Linked DNA regions of Homo sapiens: region 1 is linked to region 2. Evidence: fine-mapped expression QTL. Tissue or cell type: esophagus muscle. Region 2 holds a variant in brackets; the other region holds the start of a gene. All regions are shown on one strand. Distances are between the middles of the regions.

Region 1 (8,118 bases), 210 kb before region 2:
TTGCAAGCTGAAGCTGGATGGCTAGACAGAAACTTCAAAAGACTTATCACAACACGTGGGTCTTTCAAATATTTCCCCAGAACACCTGCATCTTCCAGACTGTGCTCTAGGAAATAACCATGATGGCAACACTACCTACCACTACCATCCTCACTAAAGATAGCTGGAGCCCAACATCTAGAAAATTTCATAACTGGCTTACCCTCTAGACTGGGTTTATCGTCTGCTCTGAACATTAATCATTGTTTTTGTTTCCTTGTTCTAATCTATGTTTTTCCCCCTTTTACAGATCTCTCATCTTACAATTTCTAACTCAAATCATCTCCCCACAGCAATCAACTTAGCTTCTTTTTTTTGTTAATGAAATTTCTAGGGAAGTTTCAGATGGAGAAATGTGTGGACCATTCAGGCCCTAAAAGTTGGTATAAAGATTATTTTACTGTGAAAATATTTGATCTAAGAAAGACGCATCAAGAAATTTTATTTGAACTTCCCTTATTTCACTAAAGCAGAGCCCCCAGAAAATACAGCTGCCATTGGCCTCCCTCTGAGGAAGTTTCCTGTAAATTCCACTACTGTAGAGACAGATTGCCCATTCTCATAAGCATCCAAAAGCCCAAAAGAACCTTCCACAACTTCCTACTGAAACTCCAAAATCTCCCAACACATTTTGTTAAGTGGATCTATAAACCTTTATTTCTATTTAGTGAGTTACTCTAAACCTTGTCTTTTCTCCTGTTAACCTGTTGTTATCAGTTAATTTGCAGGTCTTCAAACACAGGACCGACATTGAATGAGGAAAAGCTTTCCTTCCAACATAGACAATACGACTACCTGTAGAACATCATTTTGAATGTACAAAAAATTATTAAGCAGATTTAGCAAGTTTTCAGGACATGAGATCAATTGCAGATATCAACTATATTTCCATATATTAGCAACAATCAGAAACAAATGAAAAAATCACCATTTACGATATTATCAAAAAACACAAGACCTTGCACAGTGGCTCATGCCTGTAATCCCTACACTTTGGGAAGCTGAGGTGGGAGGATTGCTTGAGCCCAGGAGTTCAAGACCAGCCTGGGCAACATAGTGGGACTCCGCCTCTACAAAGAATTTAAAAAATGAATTGGGCATGGTCATGTGTACTTGTAGTCCCAGCTACTCAGGAGGTTGAGGTGGGAGGATAGCTTGATCCCAGGAGGGTCGAGGCTTCAAGATGAGCCATGATCACACCATTGCACTTCAGCCTGGGAGACAGAGTGAGATCCTGTCTCAAAAAAAAAAAAAAAAAAAAAAGAAGAAAAAAAGAAAAACAAAATAAAAAAACAAATACTTAGGTTAAAATCTAACAACAGTTATATTTTTTTTTTTTGAGATGGAGTCTCGCTCTGTTGCCCCAGGTGGAGTGCAGTGGCAAGATCTCTGCTCACTGCAAGCTCTGTCTCCCGGGTTCATGCCATTCTCCTGCCTCAGCCTTCCAAGTAGCTGGGGCTACAGGCGCATGCCACCACGCCCGGCTAATTTTTTGTATTTTTAGTAGAGATGGGGTTTCACTGTGTTAGCCAGGATGGTCTCAATCTCCTGACCTTGTGATCGGCCCGCCTTGGCCTCCCAAAGTGGCAGGCGTGAGCCACTGCGTCTGGCCAGAGAAATTTTAAAAGACCTAAATGTTAATGGGTCAGAAGATTCAATATGGTTAAAATGTCAATTCTCCCCAAATTCATCTGTAGAGTCAACACAATCTCAATCAAAATCCCAGCAGTATTTTTTTGTGCAAAATGAGAAGTCGACTCTAAGATTTAAAAGGAAATCTGAAGAATCTAGAAGATACAAAATAACCTTGAAAAATAAAGTTGTAGGACATAAACTATCTGATTTCATCACTTATTTATATAGCTACAATAATCAAAACAGCATGGTGCTGGCAGCAAAAAGACAAATAGCTCAATGGAACACAATAGGAAGCCTAAAATGAAACACATACATATGCAACACAGATTTTGATGTAAGCACAAAGGAAATGCAGTAGAGACAAAAATAACTTTTTAATAAATGATGCTGGAACATTTGGATATGTATACATGCAAAAAAATGAACTTTGGTCCCTATCCCATACCGTATACAAAAATTAATTAAAAGCAGATCTTATCCTTTGAGTCCAGTAGGTTGAGGCTGCAGTGAGCTGTGATTACACCACTGCATTCCAGCCTGGGCAACGGAGTGAGAAACTGCCTGGAGAAAAAAAAAAAAAAAAGTAGAACCTAGACCTGATATACAACCTAAAGCAGTAATATTTCTAGAAGAAATCCTAGGAGAAAATATTTGTGATCGTGGAGATGAAGAATCTATCAAATACTAAACTTTTTTTACCACCTTGACCAAAAGTAATTGGTTTATATACTTCATCATATCATTTAATTCAAAATCTACAGAGATCAATGTCACTTTCTCAGTAAAAGTACGTGAGTCTTCAATGATGCCCTGAACTCACACTCCCAAGTAAACCATAACACCATATTTCCAGAGTAGAGTTTATTAGAACAATAACTGGTGATAATGATAAATATTGATCAAAGACTGAGCCTAGGAAGTGGGTTTTTTGAGGCTGCATATACTCAAGGCAATTCTTCAGAACCACAGAGGGCTCATTGGATCCTATTAAAAGCTGAGAGTGAATGAATAAACAGATAAAACAGAGACCTGAGTAGACGGTAGTCGATATTCTTTTACATGTATTCTACCTCTAGATTCCATAGAAAGAACTAAAAGTACATGAATTTCACTACCAACATCTCCATCAGTTACCAGCTGTATCACCTTGGATCAGTCAGGTAACCTCCCGCGAATCTGGTTGCTTCCGGGGCAGGGGATCCGCGGGCTGCAGGTTTGAGCCTGGTTGCCGGCAGGGTGGAGCAGCTGGAGGGCCAAGCCTTTGAGCTCCAGGGGGGGTGGCCGGGACAGTGGGTAGTGCCAGCCGATCGGCGTCCTGGGGATTGCCTGAATGTGAGGTCTGGGTTCACCCCGCGGTGACCTGAGTCCTGGGATGCCCCTACAGGGATTTGCTGCCTCAGGGATCCGAAGTCTCTTTCATTCCCTTACTGGGGATTTGAGGTCTGGAGGTACTCCTGCGGGGGTCTGAGATCTCGGGGTCACCCTGTGGGGGTCTGAAGCCTCGGGGTCCCCGCGTGGGGTCTGAGGTATCAGAGTCCCCTCCGTTGGGTCTGAGGTCTCGGGGTCCCCCATCCCCGGGATCGGAGGTCCGGCTCCCCGGAGCAGGCAGGGCGGTGCGTCTGGCCCTGAACAGTAACGTGGCGCGCCAGCCCCAGGTGGTGTCGGGCTAGGGGGGCATAACGGTGCCGAAAGTCCGCACAAAGCCGTCCGCTGGGGTCCCGCCGCGTCCGCGAGGGAATGACTGTGCCCCCTCCCCTTCCTGATCCTCAGCTCAGGTGAGCCCAGATGAGGCGCCGGGTAGCTTCTAAGTCACTAATGGAAATAGAAGGCTAATTCAGGGGTTAGGGGCCGTCGTCCTCCTTACTCCCAGGAGAAGAGAAAAACCCACGGCCCAGCAGCCAGAGGCGCGGCGAGGCGGAATCGGGCCCCCTCCCCGGGGGCTCAGCTCCCTCCAGCCTCCCGCCTCACCTACAGAGAAATCCCGGAAACGCGGATTCAGCGGAGCGCGGTGACGGCGGCGCGCTCACCCCGCGCATGCCCAGTGCCCGCGCGCGCCGCCAGGCTCGCAAGCACCGCGTAGGCCAGCTGGCCGGATCCCGCCGTCTGTCATGGCGGCCCCCATCCTGAAAGGTGAGGTACTTCCTGCTGCCTGCTCCAGCAGCGGGAGTTTGAGGACCGGCACCCCTCGTCGCGGGCGCACTCGGGGGATCCCGTGGGAGGAGCCCCGCTCGCCCCTCCCTCGCTGCCTGTCTCCCCCAGACCCCCTGCCGCCTCCTTCCTCCCCCGCTGCCTGTCCCACCAAAACCCCCTGCTCCTGCTCTCTCCCCCGCTGCCTGTCCCCCCAAAACCCCCGGCTGCCTGCTTCGTCTCCCGTGCTCCCTGTCCCCCCAAACCCCCGACTGCCTGCTTCCTCCCCCGTACTGCTTGTGCCCCAACCCCCGTGCTGCTAGTTCCCCTCAATCCCCCGCTGCCTGCTCCCTCCCCCATGCTGCCTGTCCCCCAAATCCCGCCTTTCCCCCTACCTGCTTTCACCCCTGCTGCCTTAGTCCCTGGATCTGGGGCTCACTGGCAGGCAGAGTCCTGCCCTCCGGAAGTTGGTGTGGGGCCCTCCTGGGTCTGGTCCTGTTCGACCCCCTCTGAGGCCCACCTGGAGGAGCGGCAGTTGAGTTTCTATGCTAATTGTTCCAATAATAGGAGCCGCCTTTTACTGCGGAGTCTTTGTGTGCCAGGCGCTGTGCTTAGGCTAGTATGGTATTGTCTGATTTTTTTAACCGCTCTATCAACTCTCTTATATCATTTTACAGGCAGAAACTAAGGCATCGGACGTTTAGGTGACTCTCCCTGTGTGTGGCTAGTCAGTGCTGACAGGGCCTTAGACCGGAGCTGCTGTCCTAACCAGTATATGATACCGCACGCAGTCCCACCCTCTGTGCACCTGGAAGAGCCCAGGAGAGGGGAATAGCGGACACGTGTCTTGTAGAGTTTGACCGTGAGAAAAAAGGGGCCTGTATTGTGGGGCCTGGAGTCATAAAACCTCATAGCCAAAAGTAAAGACTAGAGGCTTTATACAAAGTCTGTAATCAGATGTGGCTATTTTTCTAATGTTAGTATTTTGTTAAATTAACCTGGTTTTCTTTTAGCGTTACCCCCAATCATTGACCAACGGCACACCTGGAAAATGCTTTTAAACATCAGGTTTTGAGAAGAGGATATCCACTAGAACAGGGGTCCACTCACTATGCCCCCCAGGCCATATCTAGCCTGCTGCCTGTTTTTGTAAGGGTCTACGAGCTAAGAATGTCTTTTACATTTTTAAGTGATTTTAAAAAAAGGTCAAATGAAAAATTATATCACATTCACATTTCCTTCTCCATAAATAAAGTTTTATTGGAACACAGGCCGGCCCGTTAATATATTACCTATGGTTATGTTTGTGCCACAACCGTGAAGTTGAGTAGTTGTGGCAAATACTGTATTGGCCACAAAGCCTGAAATATTTACCATCTGTCTCTTTACAGAAAATAGGTTTCTGCACTGGAAAAATTAAGCGTAAGAATTTGGGGAAAGCAACTAATTTTACAAATGTAAACTCTCATGTATTGTATGGGTACAGTTGTTCTTTGCTTAAAATTTTAATAAATTCCACTGAAGCTATTTTGAAAAGGCTTTCAGTAGAAATTTATTTATGAGACAGAGTCTTACTCTCTTGCCCAGGCTGGAGCGCAGTGATGTGATCACATAATAGCTCAAGCAATTCTGCTTCAGCCTCCTGAGTAACTTGGGACTACAGGCACTACCACGCCCGGTTATTTTTATTTTTATTTTTTAATTTATTATTTTTTTGTAGAGCCAGGGTCTCACTATGTTGCCTAGGCTGGTCTTGAATTCCTAGCCTCAAGCAATCCTCCCGCCTCCACCTTGCAAAATGCTGGGATTACAGGCATGAGCTACTTTGTTCAGCCAGTAGAAGAAACTTCATTTACTTTTCTTATTTTTGAGGCAAGGTCTTTCTCTGCTGCCCAGGCTGGAGTGCAATGGTGCGATCATAACTCAGCTTCTACCTCCTGGGCTCTAGGGATTCTCCCACCTCAGCTTCTCCACCCTACCCACCCCCATTTCCCACCCAGTAGCTGGGACTACAGCCACTCGCCACCATTCCTGGCTAATTAAAAACAAAATTTTTTTTAGAGACAGGGTTTCACTATGTTGCCCAGGCTGGTCTCAAACTTCTGTGCCCAAGTGATCCCACTGCCTTGGCCTTCCAGAGTGCTGCAATTACAGCATGAGCCACCACACCTGGCCAGTAGAGTAAATTTTTGTTTTACTTTTTTCTTTTTTTTTTTTTGAAACGGGTCTCGCCCTGTCACCCAGGCTGGAGTGCAATGGCGCAATCTCGGCTCACTGCAACCTCTGCCTCCCGGGTTCAAGTGATTCTCCTGCCTCAGCCTCCCAGTAGCTGGGATTACAGGTGCCCGCCACCATGCTCGGCTAATTTTTTGTATCTTTTAGTAGAGATGGTTTTTCACCATGTTGGCCCGGCTGGTCTCAAACCCCTGACTTCGTGGATCCACCCACTTCCGCCTCCCACAGTGCTGGGATTACAGGCGTGAGCCACTGTGCCGGCCTCGGTTTACTCTTAAATGTAAATAGAACAAAATCTATTGGGCAGGGGATGCTGGAATTTCAAATGTATGTTTCATGTTCATATCTTGTTTTCAGATGTAGTGGCCTATGTTGAAGTGTGGTCATCCAATGGAACAGAAAATTATTCAAAGACATTTACAACACAGCTTGTGGATATGGGGGCAAAGGTAAGACACTTATTTTGCTGTTGATTCATATGACAGTCTTCTGATTGGTAAAAAGTTACATTTGCATTTTCTTATTTTGGGAGTTTTTACTTAGAATCTGGACGAAGCAATGGGTAAGCGGTGGGAGAAAAAAGAGCCAAAGTGTGAAGAATTTAGAACAGTAGGACTTTCAGAACTCAATGCCTGTGGGCATTGAGTGAGGAGGAGGAACCTAGGATGAAATGCTGGATTCTTACACTGGTTACTTGAATGCATAGTGCTATTAAGCAAAGTGAGGAATACAGGAAAAGGAACAGGTTTCTAAGGGAAAAATTGTAAATTTGGGCATACTGAAAAATATCTGTTAGATATTTGGATATACAAGTCTGGAGCTTGGAGTGTTCAAGGCTAGAGATGATGATCTAGGGGGTCAGGACCATAGGGGTCATGTGAAGTCACAGGTGTGGACATCGTCCCATGTCAGGCATGGTTAGGATGAAGAGTGGTGACAGAGGAGCGTTGTTCAGTATTCAAGGACAGGCGATGGGAGCAGGGACCCAGTGACAGAGGGAGAGAAGAATGCCAGGAGAAGGAGAAAGGAAGTGTGGAAGTCAAAGTAGGGAGTAATTTTTTTTTTTTGAGACGGAGTCTCGCTCTGTCGCTAGGCTGGAGTGCAGTGACGCGATCTCAGCTCACTGCAATCTCTGCCTTCTGGGTTCAAGCGATTGTCCTGCCTCAGCCTTCCAAGTATCTGGGACTACAGGCACATGCCACCATGCCTAGCTAATTTTTTTTTTTGTATTTTTAGTAAAGACGGGGTTTCACCATGTTGGCCAGGATGGTCTCAATCTCCTGATCTCGTGATCCGCCCACCTCGGCCTCCCAAAGTGCTGGGATTACAGGCATGAGCCACCGAGCCCGGCCAGGAGTAATTTTTTAATTGCCTTTCAGAACTAGAATGGAGTAATTTTAAAGATAGAATTTTTAAAAACTACAGAAAGTTCAAGAAAAATAGGATGGGCAAATGTACTTTGGATTTGAACACTGTAAGGTCATTGCTGAACTTAGTGCAGTTTTCAGTGAAATGGGCAGGAATCATTGAGCTATGAGGAAATGGAGATAGCAAACAATTTGCCTTATTCAAGGTTTCTTAGTATAGCCATCTCTGTTATCAGATTTACTATCACGTACTGCTTGTGTTCAGGTAGCCTCTATTTGACTTAATAATGTCCTTGATACCAAATAGGTATCTTTTGCCCACGCACACTAAACCGATCACTTTGATGACGGGTTTTACAAAAGGGAAAAGATTCATTCACGGGGAAGCCCAGCTAGGAGGCAGAAGAGTACTCACATCTTCATTCCCAAAGATAAGGCTTAGGGATATTTATCAGTTAGGGAAGTAGGGTGATCTAAGCTGTGGGGAAAAATGAAGTACATGATCTGCACAAGCATAGTTGGGATTCATGGAATGCATGTTTAGAAAACAGGCATTATTAGGAGGCCAAGGCAGGCGGATCACCTGAGGTCAGGAGTTCGAGACCAGCCTGGCCAACATAGTGAAACCCCATCTCTACTAAAAATACAAAAAAAAGCCAGGTGTGGTGGCACACACCTGTAGTCTCAGTGATTCGGGAGGCTGAGGCAGGAG
Region 2 (8,000 bases):
GGCCTGCAGCAGGTGCCGGGTGCCGGGAAGCAGGAGACATCTCTGTTACTCCACTGTCCTCAGTGGGGAGCCACGGCTGAGCGTGAGAAAGGGCTTATAGGCTGAAGGCCAGGCAGACGGGAATGGCCAGGCAGAGGAGGGGAGGACGAGCCGGGTAGAAACAGTGGATAGAAACACGGAGGGCCACACGGCCAACGGTCAGGGGACTGGCACACCAGCCAGATTCACCCGCGGCGATGCCGGTGCAGAGAAGCTCGGCATCTGAATTTAACCCGGGTTGTGGTTTGACTCAGTCTGACGTGGAGAGAAGGGCCAGGGAGTCACGGGGGGGTGGTGGGCTGTGTGCTGGTTTAGGGGCTGGGACATGGAGGGGTGAAGGCGGGAGTCAGTCGCATCCGCTGGGCAGGGGCCTGGGGCTGCAGACAAGGTGGGAGGTGGCAGCTACGGAGGAAGCTGCAAGGGATTCTGCAGTTCCCCGGGGAGACAGGAGCCCAAGGGACCGGGGGGTGAGGGGGTTGGAAGGGGCACCTGTGGATGTCCTGAGACTTCCAGGAAGTGGGACAGGATCAGTGATGGAGATAGAGACAGAGTCATCAGGGCCGAGAGGAATGACAGTAACAGCGAGGTTGAAGTGGGCACCCCCGTCTAGCAGCACGGGGTGTGGAGCTGGCTTGTGGACGGCCAGGGAACAGGACGCTTTGAGGTGGCAGCCAGGGGCAGGGATGCTTTTGATCGCCAAGGGAGAAGACTTGATGCAGAGTTTCAGGAGCCTCCATGACTTCCCCATCTGAAGACCTTTTTTACTTTAATGGGATTGAAGTGATCACCAGAATAGTTAATGGTGTGCTCCGTTCCTATTTCTCTGGTTTTTCTAAGGTCCACAGGCTGCAGACATCGTTTGTACTTCTCCCTGGTGCCAAAGACCAGTTAATGCCGACTTTGATGGGCTCAGTGCAGGCCACATTGTCACGTGTAACTCTACACTGAGAATTATTTTAGAAGGTTAGACTCCTAAAAATGTTTTGTTTTTCCAAATGGTGGCCTCTGGGTCTGACTTCACCTCTTTTGCAATGATCAGCACTAGGATATGGTTTTGGAGACGGTTGTGCAGAGCCAGGGCTTTCACCAAAGCTTGGCCGCTCGGACAGGACTCACGATGGAAGACGGTCAGGTGCCCCAGGTTTCAGATGCCTGCCTCCTCCCATGCGTGGTGAGGGGCCTGCCTCCTTTATAGCTTTCCGCTGCCAGGCTGGCGCCTCCTCCCCTCACCCCCATCTCCTCCAGAGGAAGACCAACTTAATCAAATCTTACCACAACTACGTACTGCCTCCTGGAAAAAGCCTGATTTCTCGCCCCCTCTTGTCCCTCCCTGCGTGGAGGCAGGCCCTTTGTCCAGTGCCCATGTGGCTTGGTGGGTGGTCTTTCTAAGTTATCAGAGGACATTAGCAAACACACACGTCCGTTGGCCTAACGCCCAATCTGCAGCCAGCCTTATGAATAATCAACGTGACTTGTCTCTGTAGTTCAATGCCTATATCTGCCTCTCAGTTGTTATTGAAGCTGGGGGCAAAAAAGATGGATTATTCATTGGAAACCTCAAAACCTCGACAGCTGAGCTTTCTTACACATGCCTGTGTGGCCCCCGTGGTATCTTAGTGTTCACCTCCCCATTTGCACACAGGAAGCCAGTCACATTACTGGATTCCTGGTGAGTTTGACTTTTCATTCTGTCTTGAATCTCCCTCCCTTCCCCAACCCCATACCCCACCCTACTCCATCCCTTTTTCTTGGGTCTTCCTGATCTCAACCCCTCCATCTGTCCTCCACGTTGTCTGCATAGTGAGCCTCCTAACACACGGATCCCCCCATGGCCTTGTCTGCTCAGGTTTCTAAGGTCCCCAGTAACCACGCTCACACTGCGTAAGCACGAACGGTCTGGTCCACACCTCATCACTTGGCGTGCATGTGAATGTTTTAGCAAGTTAGCTCTTGCAATTATTGCCTGCCGATCCCCTGGGCTGCATTCACACATGCCGTGAGTCTTCAGACACCCAGGTCTCAGGACCTGAGGGGCTCCTGTGTGCTTTCCGTGAGGAACTGTCTTTCTGCTCACGACTCCATGTCACATGCCACCATCAGGAAGTCCTCCCTCAATGCCCCAAGCCTACTCAGGCTCCCACTTTCCTGCCCATGAAATGTGTGTAACTTCTAGGGTGTCCTGAGAAGCAAAGACCATGTCCCTGCATTTTTGCATCCTCAGAACTTAGCCTGATACTCACAATGAAATGAGTTCACTTAACGACACAACGAACGAATGTGCAGGTACTTCTGCAGGGGGTGATGTGGGGATGCGTGCATTGATTCTGTGGCTCAGCCCTGAGTTGGGGGCAGGAGGCAGGTGCTGGGAGGAGGATTTTATGTCTTAGGAAGCACAGGAAGGCCTTGCCAGGATCCAAGAAAAAATGGAAAGTAGACCAATGTAAGCGTTAAAAGAACACATTTTATCTTTTAAATGTGTGTACACAGTACAGTTGACTTTTTTGTATACAATTCTATGAGTTTAAACACACATATAGATTAGCGTAACCACTAATTATAAGATTGTAGGGAACTGGGGAAAAAATGCATGCATTAAGGAATGATACGGCATATTTGGGGGACAGAGAACAGGCTTGATGAGGACAGAGTCTATTTAAAAGAGACAGTGGGCACCGCAATTGGAGGGGAAGGCGGGGCAGGGTTTTAGAGAACCCCTGAGTGCTGGGCTACAGGATTCAGTAAAGTTATTGATGAGATTGGCTGCATTGTGGATTCTGAAATATTTATTTAATACCTCGAGGAGGGTGTGAGTAGATTGTGCTGATGATCGCATAACTCTGACTATACTAAGAACCACTGAGTTGCACCCAGAGCTTGCATTACTGAGCGCTTTACCAGTTAGGAAGGTTTCGCGTATTCCGTACTTTAAATCTAAGGTGACTTGACTGTAAGGCCTGCGAGTATTTCCTGGACCACTCAGAGGAAGAATGCTGTGAATGAGAACTACAGCCCTGTAAGACACGTCCTGTATCATTGTTGAGATGGGAAAGTGCATCTTAAGACAGTTAGCAGGCCAAGGAGCGACTTTAAAGGGTGAGCTCTGCCTAGAGGGAAAAGCGAATGCACTAATTGAAATCCAACACCCTGGGCTGGAGTAAATGAACCGTCAGCCACCCATGGGGCTTCATTTCTTGGTGATGGATAAATAGCTGGGATTCCTTGAAGCTAGAAGCCATGGGGAAATTCTGTTCTGCTTAGCTTTGTCAACAGTACAGTCTGCCTTAACTGACTTGGAGGTAAATAGATTCGGAGAGTGTGAGCTAAAACCCATTAAATCAGGTGAAGACACAAAGGCAAGCACAGCCAATGTGGTTTAAGGCAAAGCTAATGTCCCTTCGGCCTTAACTGACGGACTTTCCTAGCAGTCCTCACCCTCTGCAACCCAGGGCTCCTAGGAGGAGCTCATGGCAGAGAAAGCCTTCTGGCTTCTGCCACTGCCTCCTCAACTACATGTATACATCAGTGTATATGCATGGGTATGAAATGAACATTTTATGTCACCATTAGCAGAGGAAAGCTGGAACTCTTTCAAACCCCACCCAAAATTCACTCTGACTACTGAGCAGTCCTGTTGTTTATTTTGGAGGCCACTTAACCCTGGAGCAGTCCATAAGCTCCACTTAATCCCCTCTTCTTTCATGATTTCTTTTAAAGAGACATCTTGGGTTCTGTAGGGGAACATTTGTGCTTCACTGTAAAACTCCATTTGAGGCCTGCTCACGGCCTGCCACCTTATCTGCTTGCAGCCTTCATTGCTTGGGAGCTGTTTTACAGCTTCATAAGTTGTAAATAGCTGCTGGCAATGCAAACGCGCTTGTCTGTGGGCAGGAAATGAATTCTGTCTGGTAGAGGGAATGCTTCCTACCTTGTAGGAAAGCCAATATTTTTTGTCCATTAGCAAGTTTATATCAGTATTCCTAATCATTAAATGTGTTCTTCGGATTGTCCTTTGAACCAGTTATAGCATTTGAGTTAAGTAAAATGAATACACTGTTGTTTATTTTATACCTGTATGAAAGTTATGGGTTTTTTGGTGGGGGGGGGGTGTTTTTTTTGTTTTTTTTTTTGTTTTTTTTGAGGTGGAATCTCGTTCTGTCGCCCAGGCTGGAGTACAGTGGCGCAATCTCGGCTCACTGCAAGCTCCTCCTCCCAGGTTCACACCATTCTTCTGCCTCAGCTTCCCAAAAGTT[A/C]TGATTTTTAAAAAATTATCTTTTAACATTTTTTAGCTAGAAACTTCTGGGTCAATATATAAATAGATGAGCCTGGTTATATCTGAGGTTTTCACTGAGGTAACAACAAAAATAAAACAACACGATGCCACCGAGCCATCGTTCCCCAACTTACGTCTGTCCCCTCCACATGTCCTGCACGCACTCCTGTTTCTGGGGTGTGTGCATGTGTGTGTGTGTGTAAAGGTTTGCAATGAAATTAGAATCATTGGTTTTTGTTGGGGGTGGGGAGTTGTATTGTTTTGAGACAGGGTCTCGCTCTGTCACCCACGCTGGAGTGAAGGGTCACAATCACAGTTCACTGCAGCCTCAACTTCCTGGGCTCAAGTGATCCTCCCACCTCAGCCTCCCAAGTAGCGGAAACTATAGGCATGTGACACCATGCCGGGCTTGCTTATCTATGTCTGTCTGTCTGTCTGTCTATCATCCATCTATCTATCTATCTATCTAATCTATCTATCTATCTATCTATCTATCTATCTATCTATCTATCTTTCTATCTATCTAGATGGGGTCTGCCTATGTTGCCCAGGCTGGTCTCAAACTCCTGGGCTTAAGCAATCCAACTACCTCAGCCTCCCAAAGTGCTGGGATTACAGGTGTTAGCCACTTTGCCCAGCTGAAGTTAGAGTTTAGAGCACATTGCTGTAAATTGCGATTACCAAGGGTATTGAAAAATCCATGAAAATAATAAACAGCAAGTTGACTTCAGAATTTGTGCGTTTGAGGCTTTTCGCCTTGATCTCCAGGTAACACACAGGCTCCTTGGCGAGAGCCAGTGGTGATACAATGAGAACACCGCCTGCTGCATCTAATATTTGCAGCTTAGAATTCACAGCTAACTTTTTAAAATGTACCAGTGTGGGGGAAATGGTGCTTTATTTGCTGGATAGGAAAATTGGCCAAGATCAGAATTCTGAAGGCAGTGTCACAGCACAAAGAAACTAGCTACTGAAGTCACATCCTAAACATTCGAGAGGTTGATTTCCTTTTCTACTGCATTACAAAAAGGTTTATTTACTGCTTATCCATATAGTGAGATAGAGATTAGATCTCAGTTTTTGGTTAAGAACAAGCATTATCATAAATGTGTGTGTGTGTTGTGTGTGCATTTTACAGGATTTTTAAAAATACACAGAGAATTTTTCACAGTTGTTAACTCTGGTAAATGGTGGGGAAGGCAGGGGTGAGAACTGATCTATTATTCATAATCTCAATGATGAACAAGCTATTTCCAAAAATAGGTGGATTATTTAAAATTATTATTATTAGGATATTTTGGGCTTCTAGAAACAAAAACTTAACAAAAAAGTCACTTAAAGAATTTAGGGGTCTTTTTTTCTGACATGAAAAGAACAAAATAAAGGATGATTTCAGTTTGGTCCGTCAGTGACTTAGAAGTGTTTTTCAGGACCCAAGGCTTTCCGCCTTCCCACTGGGCCATTTTCAGCGTGTCCCGTGGCCTCTGGGGGCTTCAGTGATCCAGGCGTCACATTAGACATGACAGTGTCCAGCAAAGAGAAGTATTTCTGCTTTGCATCTGTTTATAACAGTGAGAAAAACTCCCCCAGAATCCCACCAGCAATTGATTCTCACGTTGCATTGGCCAGGATTGAGGCCAGCTGTGCCATGCTTAGCGCAGTCATTTGTATTGCGATCACCGTGATTAGCTCAGACCCATCCTGGGACTTCTCCTTGGGCTTGAAGACATGGCCAGGTGGAGATCGGTGCCCCCCAGAAGAAGTCTTTGTTCTGCCAATAAAGAAGACACAGACAACAGTGTCTAACAGGAAAAGCCCCTTTTTACTTTATACCCTTCCGTATTGCTTCAACAATCAAATACTTTATTTTATTGTTTGAGACAGAGTCCTGCTGTGTCGCCCAGGCTGGAGCGCAGTGGCGCCATCTCTGCTCACTGCCACCTCCACCTCCCAGATTCAAGCGATTCTCCTGCCTCAGCCTCCCGAGTAGCTGGGATTACAGGCGCCTACCAAAATGCTCGGCTAGTTTTTGTATTTTTAGTAGAGATGGGGTTTCTCCATGTTGGTCAGACCGGTCTCGAACTCCTGACCTCAAGTGATCCACTCACCTCAGCCTCCCCAAGTGCTGGGATTACAGGCGTGAGCCACTGCGCCCAGCCTTTTTTTTCTTTAGATAGAGTGTTGCTCTTATTGCCCAGGCTGGAGTGCAGTGGCACAATCTCAGCTCACTGCAAGCTCCACCTCCCGGGTTCACACCATTCTCCTGCCTCAGCCTCCCGAGTAGCTGGGACTACAGGTGCCCACCACCACGCCTGGCTAATCTTTTGTATTTTTAGTAGAGACAGGGTTTCACCATGTTAGCCAGGATGATCTTGATCTCCTGACCTTGTGACCTGCCCGCCTCAGCCTCGCAAAGTGCTGGGATTACAGGTGTGAGCCACCGTGCCCGGCCAGATACTTTCATAATTAACTTTTTGAATGTATGTGTGTCCTACTTTAAAATGAAAGATACTCTTTCTTGATTCCATTTCCATGCAGCTTGGCCCCGTGATGCTAGGGACCATGGCTTTTTCTTGCAGTGTGACTCACCATTTGCCAAAGCAAATCTCTTGCCTTGCATCAGCTCAGTCTCTTTGTCTGCAAATTAAATCAGTAGCCCTTTCCACTGCCTATCTCGCAGGATATAGTGCCAAAAATACTCACAAAGTCACCATCCAGGAAGAATCATTTGCCCCTGCTGCCACTGTCTCCTGCAAGGCACATGAAAGCTGCTGAGGCTCGGTATTTATTATGCTATAAAATTCAACACAAGGGGAGAGAACAAGCAAATTCCATGAGCATATATAAGTGTATCGGATCTACTCCATTGATGCTGGAGCTATATTTTCACAGTAGGATCCTCTTTTGTTAAATATTACAGTAGTAGGAAAACCTAGCAGAAGAATAGTTCACTGTTTCTCTGATTTTGTGAGTGATGTGGGCTGTGGAATTTACTCTTTGCTGCTCTTCCCCCAACCTGCACCCTACCCCTGCCTCCGAGGTCAGCCTTGCCTGCTGCCCCTGACTGAGAGGACCCCGACGTCACCCCACCCCAGGTTATACTCCTCTGAGAAGGTCCCTTCATCCCTTCCCCGAAATACATCCCCTCAAATCTCTAATTTGTGTGAACCATTAATTTCAGATATTGTAGGAAAAATAAGCAGGGAAAATACGCAAAACAAAACGTGGATGGCACATAACCCATAGCATCTCGCAGGGTGTGTACACTGAAGAAGTCTTTACCAACCCGTAGTTAGGAAAATGCGTGTTCAGAATAACTGGGCCTTCCCGCGGTCCTCTGAGTCAAACAGATGACCACACATTGCCAGAATGAGAAGCAGAGCAGCTTCACATCCCTGCTTCTGAAATGTTTCCCAACAGCTCATTGAAACAATCTCGAGACACCTCTCTCCCCCAAACCCAGCGTGTTTCGGGAATGGCTCTAGGAATTCTACTTTTGCATTGCCTCACTCTCCCTTTCCCCGTCCAGACCATGGTATTGGATTTACAGCATTTCTTACATCCTATAAAAGTCCTTTTCTGCCAACAGCCTGGAGCGCGCTGGATTGAATGACGCTCTCCCAGCACAGCCGGCATTTGCAGTGCATTAGAATCTTGCCGTCACTTGCACACGTCACCAAGTTACTTTAGT

The links. PIP is the estimated chance that this variant, and not a neighbour inherited with it, causes the effect.
Region 1: MCPH1-DT starts here. The variant in region 2 is fine-mapped to the expression of MCPH1-DT in esophagus muscle (GTEx, PIP above 0.99).

What each region holds. Positions count from the first base shown.
Region 1 is chr8:6,402,883-6,411,000 of GRCh38, forward strand. It overlaps MCPH1-DT (MCPH1 divergent transcript), which reads right to left and starts at 3,666. Exons shown (of 2, transcript NR_040040.1): 1 at 2,824-3,666; 2 at 674-2,238. It overlaps MCPH1 (microcephalin 1), which reads left to right and starts at 3,745. Exons shown (of 14, transcript NM_024596.5): 1 at 3,745-3,807; 2 at 6,397-6,488. The coding sequence starts at 3,786. RefSeq lists silencers at 3,487-3,566, 3,827-4,006.
Region 2 is chr8:6,613,123-6,621,122 of GRCh38, forward strand. The region is part of intron 12 of MCPH1 (microcephalin 1); the gene reads left to right. It overlaps MCPH1-AS1 (MCPH1 antisense RNA 1), which reads right to left. Exons shown (of 5, transcript NR_125386.1): 4 at 7,013-7,102; 5 at 2,481-6,080. Among named protein-coding and RNA genes, the nearest start is that of MIR8055, 5.1 kb to the right of the region's middle. RefSeq lists an enhancer at 2,953-3,454. The variant A/C (reference allele first, on the strand shown) is at 4,290.